Homo sapiens: one gene and its partners. The protein of the gene in region 1 interacts with the protein of each later gene in a biochemical or structural test. Each region holds a gene or a part of one and is shown in the gene's direction. Other genes may lie near its edges.

Region 1 (7,697 bases):
TCAACCTCCCAGAAGCCTGAGCTGCAACAGGGAAGTGAACCAGCAGGCATTCAACATCCCCAAACCTCCCAGAGACAGCTGGGCTATAGCTTGTGGTGGGAGCAATACAGGACGATGGTGACCCTTATGTGTTCTATTTATTTTACTTAAATAGTTTATTTAAGCTTGCTCTTTTAAGTGAAATTTAACACCCATTCACCAGAGTGCATAAACTAAACCTGCATCACCCAATGAAGCCAAAACCCATCTCCAGCCCCCCGTGCCCCTTCCAGGCCTAAGGGCTCCCCCTCCTAAGGGAGCGGTCGTCTCACTGGCCCCTGCTAAGGGAGCGGTCATCTCACTGGCATGGTCTGGGCCTTTTTCTCCACGTTGCCACCGAGCATGCATTCCTTCACACTGCTGTTCAGTTTTGCCCACTTTCAAACTCTGTACAGATGCAAATGAACAGTTCGCATGCCTTAGTGCTGGCGCCCTGGATGCTCCGTGTGCTTGCGGATTTCAACAAAGCTTTTGCGTGAAGCTGGAATCCGATCATTTTATGGGTCTACAGGATGCTCCAGTATGAACGAACCTCAGCTGACGGCCCCATTCTGCTGCGGATGGACGTTTGGGTTGTTTCCGGCGTGGGGCTGGACATTTTCACACGTGTCTTCTTTCCAGCTGGGCACACCTCTCTGTTGAGTAGAACTGAGCTGAACATCGCTGGTTATGGAATATGCTGGTCGTAGGGAATTGTTGGGAATACTGCCAGTTTTCCGAAGTGCTTGTACCAAGGTTTCTGACACTTCTTCACCAAAACCTTGCAGAGTTGGCTGTTTAGAAAAATTTTAGTGTCTGCAGTCATCTCATGAGATTTAAGTTTTCATTTCTTGGATTAGTTATGAAGTTGAGCATGTTTTCATACTTCCATCATCTATTAAATATTATCTTTTATAAGCGTTTGTTGAAGTCACTTTCCCACTTTCTACAACATCGTTGATTTACAGAAACCCTTTATTCTGGATACAAGCCTTTTGTCACTTCTGTGTGTTGAAACCTCTCTTCCCTCACCCTGGCTCGTCTTTTCCCTCCCACGGTGGTGTATTTTGAAAAAGAAATAATACTATTTTCATGATCAATTTTTCCACTTGTCCTTTATGGTTTGTGGTTTTCCATCTTATTTAAAATAACTGCAAGGCTATTGGAGATCTTATAATATGATCTAAAACTGCTGTTTTCCCTCTCACATTTGGGTCTACCCTTCTCCTGATGTGGATTTTTTTTTCATCTGATAAAAGTCAAGTGTAACTTCTTGTTTTTCCATATGACTCTCCAGTAGTTTGTGCCACTCATTGAAAGTTTATTCTTTCACTATTGCTCTTTAGAGCCACCATGTCATAAATCTAGGGTCCGTATGTGCCTGGATTTGCTTCTGCACTCCCTACTCACTTCCCTAGGTTTGCTGTGTACGCCTAAGCCAGCCCCACACTGTCTCCATCACTATCGCTTGATAATGACTGCTGGTGTCACTTCAAGCAACTCACCCTTGTTTTTTCTTGCTCAAGAATAGCATGGCTATCAGCCTCTTGCCTTTATATAAATTTTATTTATTTATTTATTTATTTGTTTATTTATTTAGACAGAGTTTCACTCTGTTGCCCAGGCTGGAGTGCAGTGGTGCAATCTCGGCTCACTGCAACCTCCACCTCCCGGGTTCAAGCAATTCTCCCACCTCAGCCTCCTGAGTAGCTGGGACTACAGGCATGTACCACCACACCCTGCTAAATATATATATTATATATTTTTTGAGATGGAATCTCACTCTGTCGTCCAGGCTGGAGTACAGTGGCTCGATCTTGGCTCACTGCAACCTCCGCCTCCTGGGTTCAAGCAATTCTCCTGTCTCAGCCTCCTAAGTAGCTGGGTTTACAGGTGCCCACCATCATGCCTAGCTAATTTTTGTATTTTTAGTAGAGACAGGGTTTTACCATGTTGGCCAGGCTGGTCTTGAATTCCTGACCTCAAGTAATCTACCTGTCTCAGCCTCCTAAAGTGATGGGATTACAGGTGTGAGCCACTGCACCCGGCCCTTTATATAAATTTTAAATTCACCATGTCAATTGTCACAGAAAATGGTAGTTTAATTGATAATACAGTGGATATTTAGATAAATTAAGAGAAGATGAATGTTTTTCCTATATTTGGTATTCTAATCCACACATATAGAATATCCTTCTAATTATTTTAATCTTCTTTTAGGTCTTTCTGTTCCTATTTGATAGTTTTGTACACAGAAGACCAGCATGGATGTTGTTAGACTTATTCACAGTTATTTGAATTTGGTGTTGCTGATGCAAATTTTTTAAATTTCATTTTTAAATTCTTTGAGGCTAGTTTTTAGAAGCACAATTGATTTTTGCTAAACTTTTTATTCTGCTAGTTTATCTGTAGAAACTCTAGAATTTTCTACATCCTCAATCATGTCTTCTGAAAATAACAACTTTGTGTCTGCCTTTCCAATCTTTTTATGGTTTTGTTCTCTTGCCTACTGCACTGGACAGTGACATGCAATACAATGTTGACCACAGTGGTGATGACAAGCATCCTTATTTGTTCTCAGTCTCTGAGGATGGTTTTCCATTTTTCCTGTTAATTATGTTGTAACTTCTGTATCCACAGCTTCCAAAGACCTCTTTCTATATTCTGTTGTTTCTGTTGGTCCTTATACACATTGTCTTTTATTCCCATGAGCCTGGTTATCGTTGATTGTGTTTTAACATTTCATTTGAAAAAAATAAAACACTTTGCAGAAATAATGACCTGGGATGATGTCATTCTCCTTCAGAGAAGATTTTTGTTTCTTTCAGCAAGGAGCCTGGGGGCATGAGCAATAATTCCAGGAGTTGAGATTCCTTTCCTGGGACACTTAGATGTCTCAAAACCAGTTTGCAGCCCTTGTGAATGTTGGTTGTTGCTCACTCATCCTATTGCTAGGGTGCAGCCCTTCTGAAAGCCAACCCCAAACCCATACCTTTGGCAGGCCGTAGGCCCCAGTCTTTGACCTTCAGCTCTGCAAGATGGTGAAATCACTGCCCAACTTCTCACCTCTCTTTTGGAGATTGGCAAATCCCTGTGCAAAAAGAGGTCCCCACTACTAGTTTCACTTCTCTAAGATTTCTGTGGCTCCTGAGAGCTTGGCAAAGTAATCCTTTACTACATAGCTAGCTTGACGGTGCCTTCGAGCAAATCTCTTTTTAAAGGTTTTGTCTGTTTGTCCTTAATAGGATGCCCCCAAATACCTAAACTGCCATTGCCAGGAATCAAATGACTTTTGTTGATCCAATGTTAAGATATTTTAACTTGCCAGAATCTTGCATTCTTTCATACTCTTGGGAACATTGACTTGATATCTGAAGGTGGTGTTGACTTCTCACCTGAAATAAACCTATTGATGTTGCAAGGAAGAGGAGGTCCCCTCACACCCAGGGGGCAGCTGGCAAATGGAATTGAGGGGCACAGACCTGCTGGCTTTCTCCCTGTTCTGACCCAATCCCAGGTGAGTGCTGCTCCTGAATTGGATCCTCTCCAAGAAAGGAGGCCGCACCACTGACACCCAGACCTCTCCCGCCTGGGCCAGTAGCTCAGGGACACTAAGCGGTGTCTGAGGCAATGAAGCCTCCTGCCGTTGTCTCTCAACAGGCTGGAGCCAACACACACAAACACACACAGTCGAGAGTCGTTGTGGTGCCCAGAGAGCCTGGACACAAGGTCCTGTGTCTCCTGGATCCCCCACCCCTGGGCCGCCCCTCCACTTCTCTCCCACCTGGGGAGCCCTTGAGTTTGGAAACCCAGTCTACACACGCTGGCTCAGAGAAGTTGCAAACCACAAAACAACACCTCTCCCTGCTCCTTAGTCCTGCTACCATCTGACTCTCGTTAGTGACTATTTCTATACGTTCTAAAAATCCCGCACAAAGTGTCCACAGCGTGGCCTGGCTAAGCATGATTCACAGCACGAGATGCGGAGTAGGAACATGGCCTCAGGGATTTGGGGGAACAAGAGGCATCCCCACCTTCAGGTGAAATGAGCAATCCCAGTGATCTACAAGGCGTTAGACAGAATTGAGTCCAATGCCTGGCTCTTACTAGTGGAGTGACTTCAATTTCTCCAGCTGTAACTTTCAAATAATTTACTCCACCGAATGGGGCTGGTGCAAGATGATATGATGGAAATAGTATTTGGGACATAACAAGTGCTCAACATTTTTTTCCTCTCCATCCATGATAAGTGCCTGATGACGGACAAACCCTGAATTTTCTGGGAACAGATGAGGCAAGGAAGCGTCTTCAGCAAAACCTTCCTTATCCCCCAAGGTTAAGGTCAAGGTTTCCGAGTATTGCTTGGGGACAGCTGGGGAATGGAAAGGGGGTGTGGGGGCTGTGTTCTCCTTAAGCCACAAGCAAAGCCGATGCTTTCCAGCAGAGGAGTCTCAGGAGCTCTCTGGACTGGGAGCAGGGTGTCTTTGCTGGGGGAAGAGAGCCCAATGGGGTGGGCATCTTGCTGGAGCCTAGTGGAAGGAAACATCCTTTGAGATGACCTCATACCTCCTGTTGGTGCAACTAAGCAGCCCATAGGAAGTGGGTGTCCCCCAGGGAGTTGAGAAACTGTGGCACAAGGCGAGAGCTGGTTTCCTCTGCCCTGTTAGAGCTGGGGGACTCTTCAGAGTCAAAGGCCAGAGAGCATGGAGCTGAGTGGAGCCACCATGGCCCGGGGGCTCGCTGTCCTGCTAGTCTTGTTCCTGCATATCAAGAACCTGCCTGCCCAGGCTGCGGACACATGTCCAGGTGAGACAGACCTGGGTTTTCTGGTCCCTAAAAGCTGGTAACAACCCCACTCACTGACACTCGGGTGTCCCAGGCAAAACCTTTTATGCACATCTTCCTGTGAAGATGCCCAACAGATCTGTTTTATCCTCAGGCAAGGACATGGAGGCTCAGGGCAGCTGAGGCATTGCCCAGGGTCATGGAGGGATAGGGGAGGGATGTCACCAGGTCTGTCTGCCTCGAAAGCCCAGGATTTGCCCATTGGAGCTTCATAGGTGGGTCTGGAATCTGTCACTGAGAAGGAAGAAAATACTGTTGACTTTATCTTCTTACGGGCTTACCAGGGAGGCACTCTAAGACCCTCTAATACGGTGGCTGCCACACGGACTTGGGGGGTTTGTTAAAAAGGCAGATTTCTGGCTCTCCTCCAAGAGAGTCGGAATCAGTTGATAGGGACAAGGGTTTGAACGGTGGTAAGGTGTTTCCCTCACTGATTCAGGAGCAGGTGGTTCTGTGACGCTCAGCAAGAGACTGCTCCTAAGGACGGCCTGGTGCCCCTGGCTGATAACATATTTATGAAGGAAACATAAATAGTAAATTACAGCCTGCTCTAGTGGAAGGAGGACTGGAAACACAGAAAGGAAATACCCCAAAAATGGCAGTGCCATGTCTCCGGTGAGAGCACTGCTCCGTTCCATGGTCTCTAAGAGCGCCCTTAGCAGGGCGTGTAGATTTTGTAATGAACAAAATGAAAAATATTTTTTCAAAGAAGTAAACAACTTTGGTTTGGCTGCAGCTGTGCCACACCTGGCTCTGTGTCCTTGGACCCCACACTGCCCCTCTCCAGAGGACCTAGAAAGCCCCTTCCAGCCCAGTAATTCTACAACCACATTCCCAAGGTCTGGGAGGGAAAATGCTTTGTCAGCCCCAATTCCCCAAGTTTCTTAGAAATATTGATTGTCATTAGTTATTGAAAGTGCCCGCTGTTTATTAAGCTCTTTCTAAATGCCATAAATTACAATAAGAGATTTAAAATGCACATTCTTTAACCAAATCCTGGCCGCAACCTTGTTATTATCCCCGCTTGGCAGCCCAGGGCACAAAGCTCAGAGGAGTTAAGTTACTTGCTGCAGGACACACAGCACTGAGGAGATGGGGCTCCCCTAGGTCGGGGTGGCCTCCAAAGCCAGAGCTCTGCCCCCCATCACATCTCCGCCTCACCAGTGCCTGAGGGGTGAGGACAGACCAAGGCCCCAGCAGAGCAGAAAACCTCACTTCCCAGCCACTGTTGGGCCAGGCACTGAGTGGGCACCTGTGTTTCTCTGCAGAGGTGAAGGTGGTGGGCCTGGAGGGCTCTGACAAGCTCACCATTCTCCGAGGCTGCCCGGGGCTGCCCGGGGCCCCAGGGCCAAAGGGAGAGGCAGGTGTCATTGGAGAGAGAGGTAGGTGCGGGCCGGGTGGGGAGGCCAGGCATGGCAGGGGCACTGGCTCTTGCTCTTTATGAAACTGGATGCAGAGTTGGGCAACACCCCCACCGTGGTTCCTAGATCAAGAGCCTGGGTCAGGCCCCTGCTAGAGCCAGGAACAGAGCTGACTCCCAGGGCCCAACAGGGTTCTGAAATGGAGGGAGGGTCTTTCCTAACTATTTCATGAGCTCACATTTGGACATGCTTCTGTAGCTCTGTCTCCTAGTCCTTGATCCAATACCAGCTTTGCTCAGCTACTGGCACGACTTCTAAGCTCTGTGTCCCTCCACCTTCTCACCTGAAAATTGAGGTGACCGCTTTCTTCTGCACCTGCCTCATATGGGAAAACTGAGACTCAAAGAGGTCACAGGCTTTCCTACTTGACAAACCAGTAAGGAGTGGGGCTGGGACTTGGACTGGTCTACTTCAGGGCACAGAGGGCACCCGAATCCTGAGCCCTGAGCTCTGCATGTGGATTTGCAGGGAACATGGGAGAATGAACAGCAGGCACCTGCCTTGGGTGGTTTTGGGTCCCCCTAAGCATGGCATAAGGCAGACGTGCACAAAAACTCAGAAAGGGCGCTGCCTTAGGGGGTGAGCTCCCCATGCCTGGACGCATTCAAGATGATGCCTGCGGAGCACTTGGTGGGGATGTCCCAGTGTAGATGGGACAAGCTCAAATGTCCCTATGACTTGGACTTTCACTGACGTGTCTAGGCTTCCGTGTGGGTGTCCGGGGCCAGGTCCTCTGTGCCCACTCCGCAGGCTGGACCTGAGAGTGCGGTCCCGATCCCCTGCTGAGGGAACACTGGGGAGGAAGACCTTCCCTGGCAGGAGAAGAATCAAGTCTGGCTCAGACTTCCCTTGAACCAGGCTTCTACCAGTGGGCATGGCTGGCTAATATACCCTAAAGCAAGAACCAGCCCCCATACACTCTCCCCAGCCACTGGGGTCAGCGAGCGGGCTGGGGGCTGCCTCTTGGCTGGCATCGGGGACGGGAGGGTCACCTTTCTGGCCAGAACCACGTGGAGCGCTGTGTGACACCCCAGGAGCTCAGGCGCACGGTGGAACCGGATCCTCCCTGGCAGCAGCGGCTGCACGTGGCGCCCACCCTCTCCGTGTGGGGACGTGGTAGGATGAGGCTCTCTGAGGACGCATTCTTTGTTCCAGAACCTGGTCCCTTGCTAGGCAGTAGAGCTCTGTGTGGGTGACTTGGGTCCAGGCTTATGGTCAACAGAGTGTGAAACCCAGGTTGCTCCCAAGGCACAAACAGGAGCAAGGTGCACCTTGCCTTGAGCCCAAGGTGGGGTGCAGGCCCCTCCCTCAATCCCTCACCTCCATCTGCAGTCACCCCCAGGCTAAATCCATGGCTAGCAATTCTGAGAGCTCCTGGAACCAGAAGGGGTTCAAGGCAGAGTGGGGGAGGGT
Region 2 (7,196 bases), on another chromosome or scaffold:
GAGGTGCTGGCTCTGGGCCGATGCTGCCGGGCACCCCACAGGAGGTAGCCGCCCTCTCTGGCTCAGTCACCAGCACGAGGGCAGGGCCACTCCTTTGGGGCTGCTTGTCACGGGTGCCCTTTGCCAGCCTCCAAGGACATCCTTCCTTCTCTGTCCCTCTCCCCTGTCCTCAAGCCCCGTCCCATTTTGAACCTCTGCATAGCAGGATTCAGATTCCCTTCCAAGCGCATCAGAACTAAGGCTAGCTCTGGCTGGGCATGGTGGTTCACGCCTGTAATCCCAGCACTTAGGGAAGTCGAGGCGGGAGGATCACCTGAGGTCAGGAGTTCAAGATCAGCCTGGCCAAAACGGAGAAACCCCGTCTCTACTAAAAATACAAAAATTAGCCAGGCGTGGTGGCGCGTGCCTGTAATCCCAGCTACTCAGGAGGCTGAGGCAGGAGAATTGCTTGAACCCGGGAGGCGGAGGTTGCAGTGAGCCAAGATCGTGCCACTGCACTCCAGCCTGGGTGACAGAGAAAGACTCCCTCTCAAAAAAGAAAACAAACCACCAAAAAAGAACTAAGGCTAGCTCATCTCACCAGTCCTTTATGATCTAAACCAGTGCTGTCCCCGGTGGCAGCTGCTGGCCACATGTGGCTAATGGAGCACTTGAAATGTGACAAGTCCAGATTGAGACGTACCCTCGATGCAAAATACACACCAGTTTTAAGACCTGGTACAAAAAAGAATGCAAGATATCTCAATAACTTTTATTTTGATTGGATGTTGAAAGGATTATACTTTAGATATGTTGTGTTAAATATATTACTAAGAATAGTTTTACTTATGTTTTCTTTTATTTCATATGGCTACTAGTAAATTTAAGATCATAGGAGGGGCTGGATGCGGTAGCTCACACCTGTAATCCCAGCATTTTGGGAGGCCGAGGCGGGCGGATCACCTGAGCTCAGGAGTTTGAGACCAGCCTGGCCAACATGGTGAAATCCGGTCTTTACTAAAAATACAAAAATTAGCTGGCAGTGGTGGCGGATGCCTGTAATCCCAGCTACTCGGGGGCTGAGGCAGGAGAATTGCTTGAACCTGGGAGGCAGAAATTTTAGTGAGCGGAGATCACGCCACTGCACTCCAGCCTGGGTGACAGAACGAGACTCCGTCTCAAAAAAAAAATCTGAACTTTGTCTGGATAGCGACGGAGGGTGTCTGAGCAAAGCACGATGTTCTCAGAGCCATCCAGAGACTGGGAACTCTGTCCTACCAAAATGGGTGCACCCAGAGGAGCTGGAAGATAGAGATGCCCTGTGGGTGACTCATCTGGTTGCCCCTTGGTGGCACTGAGCCAGGCAACAAGCGGGAAAGGCTTGTCAATGATAACGGCAAGACCAACGATCACCAGGCAGCCAGGTGCACCCGGTAGCCCTCTGTGGGCAATTCTGCATGTATGACCTTATTTAGTCATACAGCTAGGCAAGGAGGTGACACTAAGCATTTGAGTACTGATGGGGTCTTGAATGAACAAGTAAATGAATGAATGAATGGATGGTGGCCGATGACTGTCATCTCTAGTTCTTACATTATGTATCTTATGCATCAGACTACACGGCATGGATATTCAGTGCAATGGATTTGATTGTGAATTGAGGCCCCCTTTTGCAATCTTGTTGCATGTTATGTTCGTGGAGCTCCTGCAATGAGCAGAGGCTGCTAAGCAGAAGCAGCGCACAGGCTGGGGGCAGGACACAGGGCCCCCGGCCTCAGGGGAGAGGTCTGTTCCAGCCACCTCAAGTCTATTCCTGTGAGTGCCCCTCCACACCCCTCCTGGATCCCCCCACTGCAAACTCTCTCCCCCTGGCTCCGGACTCTCTCCCCGTCCTGGAATTAATAAAGACTCTGTGCAGACTGCGGTTTGCAAGTCTGAAAGCTGGTTCCTGCCCGTGTCACTGCCTCGAGAAGAGAGGGGTCCAGCTCCCCACAGTAGCCCCTGCCTTCCTCCTTCCCAGGCAGGCGGAGGCACGCAGATATACCATTGACTTCCCCTCCCCTGCAGCAGGCACATCCTGGGCATCGAGCTTCAGACCCTGCCCCTGAGCAGCCCCTAACCCCACCAACAAAGGGTGGCTTGGGGGGGCTTTCACCCCAGCATAATCTCCATCAGCTACCCTCAAAGCACCCCCAAATAAACACACACCGTAAGTAAGAGCTGTACACTGGCTGTGTGCGTACATCTTCAAGACAATTCTCCCAGCATGCCCCTACCTTCCAAAATTCCAGAGCTGCTCCCTCCAAAGACCCAGGGAAAAGGAAGGGTTTGTCCAGGGTCCTGGGGTGGCCCCGTATAGACCAAAGCCTGATAGCTGTCCTAGAAGCAGAGTACTTGCAGAGCGAGTGACGGCAACTGTGGTATTGACACCAGTCCTAGCACCAGCTGAACACAGAGCATTTTTGATCTAGCAGAAATACAAGACCACGTTGTATTTGTCTTTGCAATAATCTCTTAGCTAGGAATACTGATCACCTGTAGACAGATAAGGAAACTGATGCTCTGTGGAGAGGTTTTCCTACCAGAAAGGCTAGAGCCAGAAATTTACTTCTAGGTCCACCAATACCTGCCTTTGACCAATGCCTGCATTTGACCTTTCCACGCTGAGCCACCCCTGCTGGCACTCCAGACTGCCACAGTGCTCCTGCCTCCACAAGGGGTCTTTAACTCATCCCTCGGAGCCATCGTGGTGCAGGGAAAAGCCCACAGGGCGTGTGGCTTCCATGCTGTTCCCTGACTGGCTGTGACCTAGGACAAGGAACAAGTTTCCCTCTCCTATTCTCTAGGTCTCACATTTCTTCTCCTCTAGCAGTAGTGGGAAGTGAGGGGTGGGGGACACGACCCTCCCCTGTTCCATCCCACACTCCAACCCCCAAAATCCCCCAGGGTCCCCGTCCAGCTCAGTCCTGGGGGCAGAAATGCAGAGTTCTCCAGGAACGTGGTCCCAGCTGTTTCAGTGCAGGCCGCCCCCTCCTGGCCACCAGCGGAATGTCAGCCTTCCCAGAGGGGCCGGGAGAACAGCAGTCGAGAAGCTCCCAGACTGGTGTGGGCGCTAGCTGTGCTCAGCGTGGGGATGGGAGGTGACCCAGTGATAATGGGAAGCTGGGCTGCCTGTCAGTCTGCGGGGGGCTCCCACCTCCCTGTTCCCCCACAGGGCACCTGGGGATCCAGCCTGATTTTTACCAGACCCTGCGGCCTGCATGGGGCTGGGTATAGGGCTGTGACCTTGACCCATGCAGAATAGAACCCTGTGTGTCGGGATCCTCCATGTGCTCCAGATGCCCCTGGGGACAGCACCAACATGGCCTTAACTCCCAAGCCATTCCCCTGCCTCTAACCCCCTGGCATCTGCAGGCATCCACCCCAGACCCACCCAACACCTCCTCCCCAGCTTCAGGCGCTAGGCAGAGACCTTGGCCCCTGCAGAATGCAGCCCTGTCCAGGGTCCCCTACCTTCCCCCCAGATCCCTCCCAGAGCAATACCAACCCGGGCCTACCTTCCAGGCCATTCAACCTGCAGCCCCCCGGCCTCTGTAGACATCGCACCCCCCAAACCCCCAGACCTGCCCAATGCCTCCCCTCCCCAGCTTTGGGCAGAACCTGTCTCTAGCCAGACCTGGGGGTGTTGGGGAGTCTGGAGGGCCGGGGTGGGGGCTGAGGCGCGGGACAGCTGGCCCGTATCCTCACACTGGGCCCGGGGCCCAGCCGGAGGGGCGGGGGCCTGGCCACTCGGGCCTTGGCTGGGGCTGGGATTTTTGGCCTGGCCGCCAGGCCCTCCCTTCTGCTTCCTCTCCCGAGGGCTGTCCTGGCAGAGGCCCCCCTCGCTCTTTCTGGCGGGAACAGGGCCAGCAGCGAAAGAACAGTCGCAGAGGGAAAGCGGGAAAGAGATGGGGGAAAGTGTGTGTGTGTGAGTGTGTGCTTGTGTGCATGTGTGTGCGTGTGTGTGTCAAGGAAAAAAGCTCGCAGTCCAGCAGCCCGGGCCTGGGAGGCTTGTGAGCCGGGCCTTTCGTAATTGTCCCCTCCCCGCGGCCCCCTCCCCCAGGCCTCCCCCCTCTCCCGCCCTCCCGCCCGCCCTCTCTCCCTCCCTCTTTCCCTCACAGCCGACGAGGCAACAATTAGGCTTTGGGGATAAAACGAGGTGCGGAGAGCGGGCTGGGGCATTTCTCCCCGAGATGGCGGGTCTGACGGCGGCGGCCCCGCGGCCCGGAGTCCTCCTGCTCCTGCTGTCCATCCTCCACCCCTCTCGGCCTGGAGGTAAGGACCCCTCGCCCCTGTCCCCAGCGCTGCCCACAGCTGCGGGCCCTTTGGGCCAGGTGACTAGACGCTCAAGGGGGAGACCTTCGTCCCTGGGAACTGCAAGGGGTCCCAGGTGGGAGCCCCTCAGCCACTGGGTCCTCGGAACTGCCCCTCCCAGGAGCCAGCCCCGTGCCCAGGAGGAACCTGTCAAAGAGACACCCTCGACTCAGAATAGTCCCAGCCCAGCATCCAGGCTTTGCTGCCCTGCGAGGGCTGAGGGGGCCCCTGCTCAGGTGCCCGGGTGCCCGCCCTGTAGGGGGATCAGAGCATCCTGGGGGAGGGCCCAGCGGGAACCCCTGGGTCTGGAGACACCACAGTCTGCACACCTGTGGACACAGCTGGGGTGCACACCAGCCCTGGGGACAGGGAACCTGGGCTTGATACCAGCTCAACCGCAGTGAGCTGTGTGACCTCAGCAGGTTCCTTGACCCCTGGGAAGCCGGGATCCCCCCGTCAGGAAGGTCAGGGCTCCGCTGAGGATGGGTTTGCAGGTTGGGAAGCTGCTGCTGTGTTCTCCCTGCTGAGGCAGGCAGGGACTCCTGGTATGCATTTGTGTGTGTGTGTGTGTGTGCATGCACACAGGAATGAGCGTGCTGTGTGCTCGTGTGTGTATGTGTGCATGCACAGGTGTGCATGTGTTCAGATGCCCGGCTGTGTCACTGAACAGGGAAAGGGATTTCTGGAGGGGTACATATGTCTGCTCACAGGTTCATCCTTAGGCAGGTGTATGCGTATGTTTGGAGGAGGTATATGAAGCTGCTCCTTAGTGTGTGCAAAAGTCTGCCACCTGACAGACATGTAGACATGTACACATGTAGACATGGGCGATCTGGCATCCAGGTGTGACACTGGTGTGGACTGTCACTGTGTGTGTTATGGAGTGTGTACATCTGTGTGTGTGAATGTGTGTGCGATGTGGCACGCAAGCATGGAAAGGCGGGCTGGAGAAGGTGTCTGTCTCCTGGCAGAGGCAGTGTGGCTGAGACAGAGGCTGGAGTGGATCCTGGGGCACTGCTGGGCCATCTGCTATGTGCCCCAACCCAGGCACAGTTGGTTATGGGGTTTGAGGGTGTGCCCTGTGGGGCTGCTATGCCGCGGCCAACGGGGGAGGACAGAAGAGGCTCCCGGGCATGGGAAAAAGGAGGGCATTTGGTAGGGGGGTCTGGGTGGAGTCTGGTTTCCTCGGGAGTCCTCCTTGCCATGAGAACCAAACGCTGAGTGGGGGGCGGGAGGGCCACGGGGTGGAGTCAAGGGCCTGGGCAGGAGCTGCAGCTGTTTCCGTGAGATTGAACAGCTTCCTGTGCAGGGTCCGCTGCTGGACCTGGATGAGGCCAAGGGACATGGGTACCCACAGGCGGGCCCCAGCAGGGGCAACGAGCCAGGGCCTGAAAGCAGCAGCCCCGGGTCCGTCTCAGCCTCCTCCCCAGGTGTAGCCCCCAAACACCCAGCCACCCTTCTTCCCAGATGGGGCCACCACCTATAGGGTGGCAGTTCATCATCAAGGAACCTTGAGAATTAGAAATTATTATCATCACTTGACAAACAAGGAAGCTGAGGCTCCGGCAGGCTAAGGCAGTCCCCGGGGGTTAGTATCAGCCAGCTCTCTGCCCCAGGTCAAGGGGCAAGGGGGTTAGGAGTGAGCTAGCAGGCAACATTTGGGGAGGGGAAGGCTTGGGGCTGAGTCCTTAAAGCAGGCATGCCCTAGGCAGAATCAGCTCTCTCCTTGTGTCCTCAGTGACACCGCTAAACGCCCAGCTGGCCTCACACTTTGCAGAGATCAATCTCAGCTCTGTCCCAGGTGGCTGGACTTGCTAGGTCCAAATAAGGGGTGTGTGAACTGATGAGCTCGTGTGGGGTTTTGCACAGAAGTGCTACTGAAGTCTGCAGAGGTCGGGGAGCCAACACAGGGAGTGGAGCGCTCAGTCACATGCTCACTGCCACTCACCTGGCTGTCCTGGGGGAGCCTGGCTTCTCCCTCAAGGAGGAGGGTGTCACTTATGCAAGTTCAGCGGCTCCAAGGAAGGAACCCTGTTGCGGGGGTGGGGGAGCAGGAGGAGGGGACAAGCCGCACAGCTCCCAGGCTGTTTCAAAAGTGAGCATGAGAAATTAACCCAGGGATAATTCTTCCCCATCCCCCAGAAATAGTATCAGGGATTTTTTTTTTTTTTTTTCCTGATTTCAGAACTGAAGATGGTTTGGAACAGAGGTTTCCTTTTCTTTTATTTTCCTTTTTTATTTTTATTTTTTTACCTTTTTTATTTTTTTTAAATTGAGACAGGGTCTCGCTGTGTTGTCCAGGCTGGTCTGAATTCCTGGGCTCAAGTGATCCTCCCACCTCCGCCTCCCAAAGTGCTTGGATTACAGGCATGAGCCACTGCCTCTTTTTAAATATTTTTTTAATTATTGTTTTCCGTCCTTAAGTAGGAACAGGGGTTTTCAACCTGGCTATCTATTAGACTTCCCACCCAAGAATCCCTGCTTGCTTTGGTTGGAGAGGGACCTGGACACAGACTTTTCAGGCTTCCCAGGTGACGGTGGGGTCGCCAGGGCCAAGAAGCACTGGTTTAGAGGTCGATCCCGCTCTGTGTGTCTGCCGAGGCCCCGGCATGAGGGCAAATGTGCCCTGTGTGGGAGGGGACACAGTCACCCAGTGGAGGACAGCTTGTTTTTGAAAACCCTTGGCAGCCTTCTGCATGCAAACAACAAACAGCTTCGTGTGGTCTTATCTGCTCCCCAAGCCAGCCCCCTGGACTTTGGTTTGGCAAAGCCCCCTGCCAAGATCGGCTGGCCCCAGGCTCGCTCCCAAACAGGCTGCTTCCAGCTCTTTGAACCTGGAGCCCAGGGCCCAGGCAAATGGCCCT
Region 3 (7,022 bases), on another chromosome or scaffold:
AAGGGTCTATTCAAAATGTGTGGACACAGCAGAACCAGGAACAACTTCAATGTGGTGTTCCATGCTGTGGATGAGCCTTGTCAAGGCTCTGGCTGGATGAGTTCGACTGCCATGGGATTAGGCAGGATACCTGGGACCTGGCAGTGGGAATTGCATGGTGTCAGGTAGACTGTGTTTAAATGGCCGAGTTTTGAATGGAAGGCTCTCTTAGGCACATCTATCAGCTCGTTCTTGAGTGTGGGAGCAGGGATGGCATGTCAGAAAAGAGGTGGGGATGTTCTGGTACAGAGTTCCCTAGTTTGCTATCTCTGTTGAAAGAATGTTGTGGTTTCTATTGCGAGTTTCTTCTTCATTTTCAGGGATGCATAGCCACATGGTTTCAGTGGCCCCCTTCCTAAGCCATCAATATGAAGCAGGGCAGCTGGGGGAGCCCATCATGGAGCTCATATTCAGGCTGTTGAGGCAGGTGAAGATGTTCTCTGACATACGGCAAGTCCTGTCACTGGCCTGTTGGTTCCATTAGAGAAATTCAAATCTCTGAACTGTGACTGTCACTGCTCTCAGGACCCACATTTACAAAGAATCTGAAGAGCCGGGCATGGTGACACATGCCTGTAGTTCCAGCTACTCTAGGGCTGGAGGCAGGAGGCTCGCTTGAACCCAGGAATTTGAATCTAGCCTGGGCAATAGAGCAAGACTCTATCTCTAAAAATAAAATAATAATCTGATAATTTTGTCAAATGCCTTAATCCTCCTTTTACCAGGAAGTAAAAAGAAAAGGAATAATGAAAGAAAGTATGCTGGAATTGTTAATAAGAATTTAAACATAGCAGACCTTTTTGTATCACATACATTTTGGTATATAAACATCATAAAAGACAAAAGAATACCATCACATGTATTTTTTTTTTTTAGCAAAATAAGATGGTTGAAGTTCTTGTTGCAAAATATCATGTGATGAAATCCCTATCGAAGTGTGTAAGAGTACTGTATTTTATTTTTGTCCTTAGAATTGTATCATTGACCCTGGATTCTTGAATTTGAGAAATTCATCTAGGATATCATCATCTGAAGACTCATAGTCTGAGATTTCTGTTGTACAATCAATTCTACCATTATTAGTATCTGGAGTGCTATATCTTGTCTCTATATTCCTCTTCTGGTTCATCTAATTATTGCAGAAACATCTTCCCTTGTCAGTTTTCTTCTCTTTGCCATCACAAGTAGAAAATGAAAAAATTTGAATTTTTAACTGCATTCAATGAAAGCTAAAAACAGACTATGAAGAAAGTGTCTCCAATCTTAAAAAAAATCTTCTTGAAAGATAATACAATACTTTGGGCATGGAAGAATTATGACTTATTTCACTAGTTCATCTTCCTTCTAGGCAACTTCACCATTCTATCATTTTCTTACTATTTAATAATTGATGAATAATGATGCAATACTTTCTTGGATGATGAAATAGTGAAATGCTTCAAGACATAGGAAAAATAAAATCAGAAGCCAATAATGAATCTTGGATTTATAAAAGGATCTAATGGATCCATATGGTGATTACAAGATAGGATGAGTTTTATCCTTTTTTTTAAATGAATAAATACTCTCTCTGATCTTTGAAAGACCTCTAAAATATATAAAAGTTGTTAAATATCAACACTCACGAGTATAGTTAGAACTGCTCAAAAAGAAACTCAAAAGCTACAGTTGAGTCCGATGGACCTTGTCTGGCCTCACTGAATATAAAGATCCAGGGATCTCTAGATTTCCATTTGCTTCAAGATGGAATAAAATGTTTTCAGGTTATGAGTCAGAAGGAACAGAATATCTGACATTAACATATTTTCTTCTTTAGGGGTCATCTGAGTGGCTGTTGTCAATGCCAGCTATACTCAAATTTCAGACTGGACAACGAGCTTAAGCTGTCTTCTCTTGTCCAGCCCTTCTTTCCAAGCATAGATTACATCCTGTCACCATAAGCTGTAGTGTTAGGGGCCTAGTAAAGAGACATATGCTTCATTACATCTAAAATGATTGAGCTCCTCATATCCAATCCACTTGCTTTAATCCGCTATTGCAGAATTCATTTAGCAAGAACGTCGGGGACACACAAACCCAAGATTGAGCCACAGCGCCCTCTGGTGTGATTGTACGGTGAAGCTAAAGCCAATTTCTGTGACTTGTAGGAAATCATTTCTAAACAGTGTTTCTAAGACGAATTTGTGTTCTTTCCAGGTGGGTGGATCCCAAGGACTACAGACTACGGTAAGACCTTTTCTTCACTCCTCTTCCCTGGTGGGGTTGGCCAGTTCTCCTCTGCTACTGTTGGCTAGTTGAGGCTGAGCACAGCTGAGGTCACAGAGCAAACGCCTGCCTTGTCGAATGCAGGAATGCCGGGGGGACAGGAGACGTGCGTGCCAAGACCTGGGGCATGTCTCAAGTGCACACTCGGCCAATCCCAGCTGTCATTCTCCTTCCTCTTGCTCTCTGACTCTCAGTCATTTATCAGATGAGGTTAGTTTCAGTTTGGTGTGAGGAGAGATAGTTGAAAATAAAGGTCAGTACCTTTTCTTTTTTTTTCTTTTTCTTTTTTCTTTTTGAGATGGAGTCTTGCTCTGTCACCAGACTGGAGTGCAGTGGTGCAATCTCAGCTCACTGCAACCTCCGCCTCCTGGGTTCAAGCAATTCTCCTGTCTCAGCCTCCAGAGTAGCTGGGACTACAGGTGCGCACCACCACGCCCAGCTAATTTTTGTATTTTTAGTAGAGATGGGGTTTCACCATGTTGGCCAGGATGGTCTTGATCTCTTGACCTCGTGATCCACCCACCTCGGCCTCCCAAAGTGCTGGGGTTACAGGCATGAGCCACTGCGCCCGGCCTACCTTTTCTTTTCACTAATAATGACAGGTATCTTGAAGATAACTAACATCTACCAAGCACTTGTTATATACCCTGCATAAAATGATTTTCATGTATGAAATGAATTGATATATTTTTAAAAAATACTTAAAATACCACCTGGCACCTAATAAGTGCTCAACTAATGCACATAGTGAGTGCTATTATCATGAAATCTTTCCAAGAACACTTTGAGGTAAGTAATACGATTATACCCATTTTGCAGATGGGAAAACCAGGGCACAGTTAGCTAATTTGTCAATATTTCTATGTCTAAGATCATGTGTCTGGTGAGTAGCAGGGCAGAGATTTGAGGCTAGGATGGGTGCCTCCTCTTACCCCTGCCCTGGTCTTTGACTTTGGCTAAATGTCCCTGCCTCTCCAGTGAGAATGTGCAGAGAACTTTGTGCCCAAGTTTAATTTTTCAGGGCCTTCCATGTGTTCACTTAGGATGACTCTGCTCCTGGGCCCTTGGCCTTGTTGAGGTCAGTCCCTCCCCTTCCAGGACATGACTTGAGAGATCCAGAAATGGCCTGGGAAAGGCAGATTTCTGACCAACACAGAGCAAGGGAGAGGCTGAGGCAGGGAGACCGAGCACTCTCCTGGAGGGACCATTCACAGGGTGACCAGGAGGGGGCGCATTGCCCTGCTGCACCTCTAGGTTCATCTCTGATCCAGAAGAGTTGCAGATGGCATAGAAGGTAGGGTGTTTTGCTCGTAAGAGGGGCCCTTCCGAATAAGGCCTCAGGTCTGAACAGGCATCTCCATGGATTATGTCCCTGAGACTGGGGAAGGACAGAGCATGGGAAGTCCAGAATGTACTTTGGGGATACCCTGAAGATGGTCCAGCTGGCCTTTCCTCCCTCTGGGAGGAAAAGCAACCTGCCCCCTCCCTTTGCATCCCATTCCAGCCTCTCACTCTGTGACCACAAGTTTCTCATAATCTCAAACTCACCATTGAAAAGCCACACCCAGGATCTGGCTCCTACTGTCAGGACGGTGGGCTGCACCCCTCAGGACCTGTACCTATTTTCCTCACACCATCAATACAGCTTACCCCAGTGGGTGGTCTAGTGGCATCACGTCGGGCAGGAACATGGTGCTTATTGACTTCCCAGCATGGCCAGCTCCATGGTGGGAAGCAGGCTCAATTAGCCCCTCCCAGGAGAGGAGGCTGGAAAAGTAGGTCGAGGCTTGCTCTTGGACTTGATCCTGATGGGACTGGAGAGTGTACTGAAGCATTTTGAGCAAGGAATTGAATTGAATATATTTGTACTTTCTAAAGATAAAACTTGAAAACCACCTGGAGACCAGTGAATCCTCTTAGTATAGAAATGGGTGCAGAGTAAGCACTCCATCGATGCTGATTGAATCAATGAATGTGGATGGACTAGAGAAAGGAAGAGCAGACACTGAGGATTCAGCTGGGAGGAGGCCAGGTTCAAGGGGATGAAGGCTTATCCCAGTGAAATGGCAGTGGGAACGACACGGAAGGAATGACCTTGGTGATGTTAGATGTAGGATGTGAGGAGAAGGAGGAGTCGAATATGATGCCCTTATTCCCAGCATGGTTAATATGGAGCATGATGACATCCTTAATTCAAACGGAGGGAAGAGGCTGTGTTGAGTTTGGGATGATGTGGGGGGTAGGATGGCCAGGAGGCCACTGAAAATGCTGGTCTAGAGCTCAGGGCTGGGCTGTCAGGGCTGAGTCAGAACCAGAGAGGTGGATTTGGGGGTCTTCTGGAAAGTTCTCAGAGTACATGAGGTTCTCCAGGGGGAAAATACAGAATGAGAAGAGGGCAAAGAGAGAACATGGAAGAACAAGGATACTTAAGATCCTGCTGGGAGAAAGATTGTAAATAAGCAGGGTGGTGAGAGGAAGAAGGAGGAGTGAGGAGGGTAGGGATGCAAGTCAAGGGGGCCGAGAGCACCAAGATAAAAGCTTCTGGCTGTGTCACTGCAGGTCTGCCTCTGAGGCTGGTGAATGGAGGTGACCGGTGTCAGGGCCGGGTGGAGGTCCTGTACCAAGGCTAATGGGGCACTATGTGTGATGACAGCTGGGACGCCCAGGATGCAGATGTTGTCTGCAGGCAGCTCGGCTGTGGCTATTCCATGTCAGCCCTGGGCGGGGCCCACTTTGGTCAGGGCTTGGGTAACATTCCCTTGGGTGACTTGCATTGCTTGGGAAGGGAGTCCTACCTGTCAAGCTGTCCCCACAGCGGATGGTACAACCACGAATGTGGCCACAGGGAAGATGCTGGTGTCATGTGCTCAGGTAGTGTGGATATCACCTTGCTCTGTGTATCTGCAACTCTGAGTCAATATTACCACACATAAGTATGTGTGCGTACATATGTGTGTGCTCTACAGCTTACCTGCTTTGCAGTAAGTCATGTCTTAATTGATATTGGAGGGCAGGTGGTACTGGCCCTTTTCATAGACAATGAAGGTCAAGGGATCATCGGCCAGTCCTTCTAAAGCTGGATATAGTGGAGGCAGGCTTCAGTCTCACCCCCCAGAGCCTGCTGATGCAATCACCTCATGGAGTGGTTTTGATGAGCAGCATCACGACCACCCCCGGCCTGGGATACCAAATATATATCTTCCTAAGTGGCAGTTTCTCCTCCTTTAAAAGCTGACGAGGATGGAGGAACTGCTGGTCCTTAAAACATAAATGTATACCAACATCAAATTGAGGAGTGAACCAAAGCATTCTCTTTATTTGGAATTAAATGACAAATAAAAGCTACTTAATATCCTCAATGGAAAAGAGAACTTCTCCTGGACCCAACCCAGCAAATCCCAGTGTTGATTTCCTTTGTTTGCGTAGTGCCAGGAAGTGTGTGGACACCAAGGGGTCCTTTAGTTCCCAAAGAAACCTTCAAGGACACTGTCCCATGGCGTGTTCCCCAAAGAGGAGTTTGTGGTTAGAATGTTCACTTCTAGAGCAACTCTGGCATTTGCCGTATGGACTGGACTGAGCCCATGCCACCATGCATGGGATGTACCCTTGATAATCCAACCAGCAAGTGGGACTGGACTCCCCAAGGGGACATGGTCCTCCATGCAGCCACTTTGTGAGTGATTTATTTCGGCATTCTGAAAAGGTTGGTATTCTTTCGAAACCACCTTTCTTTCTAGTTGAACCATCTTATCAGGAGTATATCAGTGATGGTGAATGTTTGTCATTTGAGGGTGTGTTTTAGCTATAGATACAGCCAGTTGTCATTGACATTGGATCTTGTGACTAGGATGGGGCTATGAGTGGACTTGGTGATTTTTTGAATACAGGTCGTGGCAGCAGAGGAGGTGTGGGGAGGGTAACAGGAGCAAAGGATGCTGGTGTGGCATCCTAGCCCAGCCTGGGGCCATTTCAGTGATGGAGCGATTGGCACATAGTTGGCTTTTAGCAATGGAGGGTGCCCTTAGGCCCTGGCTTCCAGTTCTTGCTTGAGAGCTGAGGAAGCCAGGGACCAGCCCTCCCCAAGCAAGGGCTACCATCAATGAGCTCTTCCTTTTCCACCTCGCAGCTTCACTGATTCCCTCGGAGGTGCCCTTGGATCCAACTGTAGCAGAAGGTAAGGTCTATTATGGGGGAACCCTGTGGGCTCATTACCCCACTGCACCCCTAGGTTCATCTCTGATCCAGAAGAGATGCAGAAGCCATACTTCTAGCAACTCTGGCATTCAGTGTTTGGGCTGACTGAACCCAGGCTACAATGCCTGGGGTGTGCCCTTGATAATCCAACTACCAAGTGAGACTGGGCTCCCCAAGGGGGCATGGTCCTCCATGCAGCCACTTTGTGATGGTTTAGTTTTGCATTCTGGAATGGTTGGTTTTCTTTCAAAACCATCTTTCTTTCTTGTTGAACCACCTTCTCGGGAATATTTCAGTGATGGTGAATATTTGTCATTTGAGGGTGTGTTTTAGCTATAGAAACAGCCAGATATCTTTTGACATTCAATCTTGTGACTAGGATGGGGCTGTGAATAGACTGTGTGACTTGTTGAATAGAGGCTGTGGCAGCAGAAGAGGTTGGGGGAGGGTAAGTAGAGCAAAGGATGCTTGTGCGGCATCTTAGCCCAGCCTGGAGCCAGTACGGTAACACAGTGATTGGCACA

Evidence for each region. The genes of interacting proteins can lie anywhere in the genome.
Region 2: the proteins of FCN1 (region 1) and ELN form a complex in vitro, tested with the Homo sapiens proteins (one study listed by BioGRID).
Region 3: the proteins of FCN1 (region 1) and DMBT1 form a complex in vitro, tested with the Homo sapiens proteins (one study listed by IntAct).

Annotation. Positions count from the first base shown.
Region 1 is NC_000009.12:134,914,896-134,922,592, reverse strand, and holds the start of FCN1 (ficolin-1 precursor), read left to right. Parts: upstream 1-4,680; 5' UTR 4,681-4,721; coding exon 4,722-4,824; intron 4,825-6,131; coding exon 6,132-6,245; intron 6,246-7,697.
Region 2 is NC_000007.14:74,023,977-74,031,172, forward strand, and holds the start of ELN (elastin isoform a precursor), read left to right. Parts: upstream 1-4,196; 5' UTR 4,197-4,211; coding exon 4,212-4,293; intron 4,294-7,196. UniProt on the Homo sapiens protein: Major structural protein of tissues such as aorta and nuchal ligament, which must expand rapidly and recover completely.
Region 3 is NC_000010.11:122,563,732-122,570,753, forward strand, and holds part of DMBT1 (scavenger receptor cysteine-rich domain-containing protein DMBT1 isoform e precursor), read left to right. Parts: intron 1-2,235; coding exon 2,236-2,265; intron 2,266-6,430; coding exon 6,431-6,478; intron 6,479-7,022.